Linked DNA regions of Homo sapiens: region 1 is linked to region 2. The links come from fine-mapping of genetic effects on gene expression. Tissue or cell type: lymphoblastoid cells. Region 2 holds a variant in brackets; the other region holds the start of a gene. All regions are shown on one strand. Distances are between the middles of the regions.

Evidence for each region. PIP is the estimated chance that this variant, and not a neighbour inherited with it, causes the effect.
Region 1: P2RY11 starts here. The variant in region 2 is fine-mapped to the expression of P2RY11 in lymphoblastoid cells (TwinsUK, PIP 0.95). The same link has a PIP of 0.9 or more in whole blood.

What each region holds. Positions count from the first base shown.
Region 1 is chr19:10,110,678-10,113,359 of GRCh38, forward strand. P2RY11 (purinergic receptor P2Y11) reads left to right here and starts at 1,016. Exons shown (of 2, transcript NM_002566.5): 1 at 1,016-1,063. The coding sequence starts at 1,045. PPAN (peter pan homolog) reads left to right here. Exons shown (of 12, transcript NM_020230.7): 11 at 20-189; 12 at 268-1,335. The coding sequence ends at 488. PPAN-P2RY11 (PPAN-P2RY11 readthrough) reads left to right here. Exons shown (of 13, transcript NM_001198690.2): 11 at 20-189; 12 at 268-407.
Region 2 is chr19:10,179,837-10,182,518 of GRCh38, forward strand. It overlaps DNMT1 (DNA methyltransferase 1), which reads right to left. Exons shown (of 41, transcript NM_001130823.3): 2 at 2,205-2,241; 3 at 942-1,049; 4 at 514-733; 5 at 351-398. Among named protein-coding and RNA genes, the nearest start is that of DNMT1, 14 kb to the right of the region's middle. The variant A/G (reference allele first, on the strand shown) is at 1,460.

The DNA.
Region 1 (2,682 bases), 69 kb before region 2:
CCCCCACGCCCTCCTCCAGAAAGAAGAGCCTGGAGGGCATGAAGAAGGCACGGGTCGGGGGTAGTGATGAAGAGGCCTCTGGGATCCCTTCAAGGACGGCGAGCCTGGAGTTGGGTGAGGACGATGATGAACAGGAAGATGATGACATCGAGTATTTCTGCCAGGCGGTGGGCGAGGCGCCCAGTGAGGGTATGGAGTGGGGTCTGCAGCAGGGCACCCAGAGCCTGTCCTTGTCTCTGGGGGCCCTGACACTGTCTCTCCCCACAGACCTGTTCCCCGAGGCCAAGCAGAAACGGCTTGCCAAGTCTCCAGGGCGGAAGCGGAAGCGGTGGGAAATGGATCGAGGCAGGGGTCGCCTTTGTGACCAGAAGTTTCCCAAGACCAAGGACAAGTCCCAGGGAGCCCAGGCCAGGCGGGGGCCCAGAGGGGCTTCCCGGGATGGTGGGCGAGGCCGGGGCCGGGGCCGCCCAGGGAAGAGAGTGGCCTGAGCCCAAGCCGCACCGGAGCAGCGGCTGGATTGAACGCCCCAGATTGGGGCCCGAGATGTGGCCCTCGGTTTCCTTTCATAAAGGAGTTGTGTCCCCAGCCCTTCCACTCCAGTAAAGAACTGAATTGGCCAGGGGTCCACGTCAGCGTTTGGGATGGGGGATTCTGGAGCCATACAAAGCAACCCAGAGAGTCCTGGGCCGGCCACACCCGAGAGTCCCTCCCACCTGGTTTCTTCCTGGAAGCTGGGTCTCTCCCCTACCCTGCACGGGGTTGGTTTCATTGGTGGCAGCAGCAGCCATGAGTGGCCCCTCCCCCCAGTCCCACCAAAGAGCCGTGCAAGCAGACAGGTCACACTTTCAGCAGATGAGCTTGAACCTCAGGAGGGTTGTGGCACAATGAGGAAGGAAACGTGGGTGGAAAGGCACGCTGGCCTGCTCTGCTGGCTGGGCCAGTAACTGGGGATGGGGCTGGGGCAGGGCCCACTAAGCCACTGGTGACTGGGGGAGGGGCTGGGGAACTGGGTAGCAGACACAGGCTGAGGATCGGCACGGGAGCATGGCAGCCAACGTCTCGGGTAAGGAGAAGGCATGTTGGCTGTCTCTGGGGGTCTGCAGATTGTCAGGAGGTGGGGGTAGTGGGTATTGGTAAAACACCTAGGTCTGGGGCTGGGCACGGTGGCTCACGCCTGTAATCCCAGCACTTTGGGAGGTCGAGGGGGGTGGAACACGAGGTCAGGGGTTCGAGACCACCCTGACCAACAAGGAGAAACCCCGTCTCTACTAAAAATAAAAAAATTAGCTGGGCCTGGTGGCACATGCCTGTAATCCCAGCTACTCGGGAGGCTGAGACAAGAGAATCACTTAAACCCGGGAGGCGGAGGTTGCCATGAGCCGAGATTGCACCATTGCACTCCAGCTTGGGCAATGAGCGAAACTCCATCTCAAAAAAAAAAAGCCTAGGTCAAGGCTGGGTGTGGTGATGCGAGCCTGTGATTCCAGCTACTCGGGAGGCTGAGGCAGGGGGATCACTTGACCCCAGGAGGTCGAGACTGCACTGAGCTGTGATTGCACCACTGCACCTCAGCCTCGGTGACAGTGAAATCCTGTCTCCAAAAAAAAGCCACGTCTAGACGACACTTCCTCCTTAAGCAGGCTGGCGTTGGGAGCAGGGAGGCGCCTCCGGAGAAGCCTGTCCCCAGCCTGCAGAGGCAGGGGTGGGGTGCACAAGGAGTGAGTGCCCCTGTGCTGCTGTGCCCTGGGCACTGTGGTGAGCACTGGCACCAGTAATGGGTAAGCAGGCCCCCCCATCCTCCCGAAGGAGGGAGATTTTTCTCACCGTCATCAGGTGGCGCAGGGTATGGGGGAAAATAACGCAGGGAAGGGAGAGTGGAGGCACGAGGGCTGCTGTCAACAGTGGTTAGGGTGGCCTTGGGGCCTCTCGCAGGCAGGACCACGGACGTGGGAAGAGGAGCCTCAAGAATGTCTGGGTGTGGCTGGGCACGGTGGCTCACACTTGTAATCTCAGCACTTTGGGAGGCTGAGGCGGGCAGATCTGAGGTCAGGAATTCGAGACCTCTTGGCCAACATGGGGAAACCCCATCTCTACTAAAAATGCAAAATTTAAAATTAAACCAGGCGTGGTGGTGGGTGCCTGTAGTCCCAAATACTCAGGAAGCTGAGGCAGGAGAATCACTTGAACCCGGGAGGCAGAGGTTGCAGTGAGCTGAAGTCACATCATTGCACTCCAGCCTGGGTGATGAGAGTGAGACTCTGTCTCAAAAAAAAAAGTCTGGGTGCGAAGGTACCAAGGCACAAGTCTGCAAGAGCAGCCAGGAAGCCTGGGTGGGCTGGTGCGAGGGAGTGAGTCGCGGAGCACAGAGGGTGGCACTGGGGGGTATGGCGGGCGGGAGCGCTCTTGGGGGACCTTGTGGGGTGAGTCTGGCTTTTTGGCGGCAACTCCCTGGCCAAGTGTGAGCACCTGGAAGCAAAAGGATGGGGCAGGACTCCAGCGCTCGCGGGTGCTCTCTGGTGGCCACGGGGAGAAGAGGCTTTGGGCGGCGGCGGGTGCCAAGGTCAGGGCAGAGTGGGGGCTGGACCCCCACGGGGCTTTGGACGGCACAGATCTGAAGTGGAGCCGGCAGGCCTTGCTGGGGCTGGACTTTGGGGAGGAGGCCTCTAGTGGGGCCAGGTGTGG
Region 2 (2,682 bases):
AAGATTAGCTGGGCATGGTGGTGCCCGCCTGTAATACTAGCTACTTGGGAGGCTGAGGCAGGAGAATCGCTTGAAACTGGGAGGCGGAGGTTGCAGTGAGCCGAGATCGCGCCATTGCACTCTATCCTGGGCGATAGAGCAAGACTCTGTCATTAAAAAAAAAAAAAAAAGAAAGAAAGAAAGAGAGTTAAGCAGGGCCAGGCGTGGTGGCTTATGCCTGTAATCCCAGCACTTTGGGAGGCCAAGGCAGGTGGATTACTTGAGGTCAGGAGTTCTGGACCAGCCTGGCCAACATGGTAAGACCCCATCTCTACTAAATACAAAAATTAGCTGGGTGTGGTGGCACATACCTCTAATCCCAGTTACTTGGGAGGCTGAGGCAGGAGGGTCTCTTGAACCTGGGAGGCAGAGGTTACAGTGAGCCGAGGTTACACCACTGTGCTCCAGACTGGGCAACACAGTGAGACTCCATCTCAAAAACAATTAAAAATAAAAGGAATCATCTGCTCTTACGCTTAGCCTCTCCATCGGACTTGCTCCTCCTGGGCGTGCGAGGTTTGGAAAGGGGTTTGGGGGGGCTGTTGGCATCTGCCATTCCCACTCTACGGGCTTCACTTCTTGCTTGGTTCCCGTTTTCTAGACGTCCATTCACTTCCCGGTTGTAAGCATGAGCACCGTTCTCCAAGGACAAATCTTTATTTAAAAGGGATTTGACTTTAGCCAGGTAGCCCTCCTACAGCAGGAAAGGATAATTTAAGTAGCAGTGAATGTAAACAAGTGTCAGAGAACAAGGAAACACATGTGTTTCCTTCATCATCATCATCATCATCATCATCATCAGGCAATGAGGACAGCTGGGGATCTTGCTGCCTCCCTGGTCACAGACAAGTTACTAGGAGGAGACATTTTTCTAGAGGCTAGGATGCTGAGAACTGACTTACCTCGGATAATTCTTCTTTACGTAATTTGGTTTCCAAGTCACATAACTGATTCTTTATTTCTGTTTGCAGAAATTCGTGCAAGAGATTCAATTTCTCCTTCACACATTCCTAAGGGAAGGATATAGGTTTAGCAGTACCCACATTCCCAAGCTATTCACTAGTGGACTAATACACAAATTATTGAGCTGCCTGATCACATCACAATGAGTGAATGGCAGGCAATGCTGTCTCAGTCAAAACACTAAACAGTCATGAAATGTGTTCAGGGAATTTCCATTAGGATCACTTCACTCCTGTCTCCAAAGTGGTGAAAAATGGGAAAGCTGGAGGTGAGATGGAGACATATCATGGTTTATAAGAATAATACTGTGCTTCTGTAAAGTGTCGGCCAGGCACAGTGGCTCACACCTATAATCCCAGCACTTTGGGAGGCCGAGGCAAGTGGATTGCTTTGAGCCCCAGAGTTCAAGACCAGCCTGGGGCAACATGACAAAATCCCATCTTTACAAAAAATATTT[A/G]AAAATTAGCTGGGCATGGTGGCTTGAGCCTGTAGTTAGAGCTACTCAGGAGGCTGAGTGGGAAAATCACTTGAGCCTGGGAGGCGAAGGTTGCAGTGAGCCAAAATTGTGCCACTGCACTCCAGCCTGGGCTACAGAATGAGACCCTATCTCAAAACAATAACAAAAACACAATAAAACAGTGTTACCAGGACAAGTTACAATCCAGAGTAGATTGTTTAGGAACTGAGATTGGTTAAAAAAAAAAAAAACCTGGGCCAGGCATGGTGGCTCACGCCTGTAATTCCAGCACTTTGGGAGGCCAAGGTGGGCAGATCACGAGCAGGCGTTCAAGACCAGTCTGGCCAACATGGTGAAACCCCATCTCTACTAATAATATAAAAATTAGCTGGGCATGGTGGTGCGTGCCTGTAGTCCCAGCTACTTGGGAGGCTGAGGCAGGAGAACAGCTTGAATCCGGGAGGCAGAGGTCACAGTGAGCCGAGATCATGCCATTGCACTCTAGCCTGGGTGACAGAGTGAGACTCTGTCTCAAAAAACAAAAACAACAACAAAAAAAAACACCACCACCACCCAACTATTAGCAGCAAATTAGTGCTGACATTTAACAAGAATATCCAAATTATCTTTGAAACTCCATGGGAAAAAATGCAAAATCCATTTAAAGAAAACAAATTTCTTTTTATGAGCCACAAAGTGTGTCAGTCAGATTTGGTAATAAGAAAAATTTTAAGGTGGAGATTACCTTTTCTGTTAAGCTGTCTCTTTCCAAATCTTTGAGCCTGGGAGGAAGAAATAGGGGAGAAAATACAAACACTTGTTAAGCAACTTCATTTGCCTGTAAGAATATCACAGTTCTAAAGAAGTTTTGGACACAAACAAGTTTAACATATGAGTGTTAGAAAAAACTAAGCTGGCTTTTGTCTCCCCGCAAGAGTCTAGAGTGTCCTACTGGAATGCCTAATGCTAAGAAGTCATCTGATCTGAACAAGGTTCCCCTTTTGGGGGTCATTTTTCTGATGATTGTGAGATTACATAGCAGCTCTGTAACACAATTATGTGTATGTGTGTGTGTGTGTATATATATACATATATATGTGTATATATATACATATATATGTGTATATATATGTGTGTATATATATACATATATATGTGTATATATATGTGTGTATATATATACATATATATGTGTATATATATGTGTGTATATATATACATAT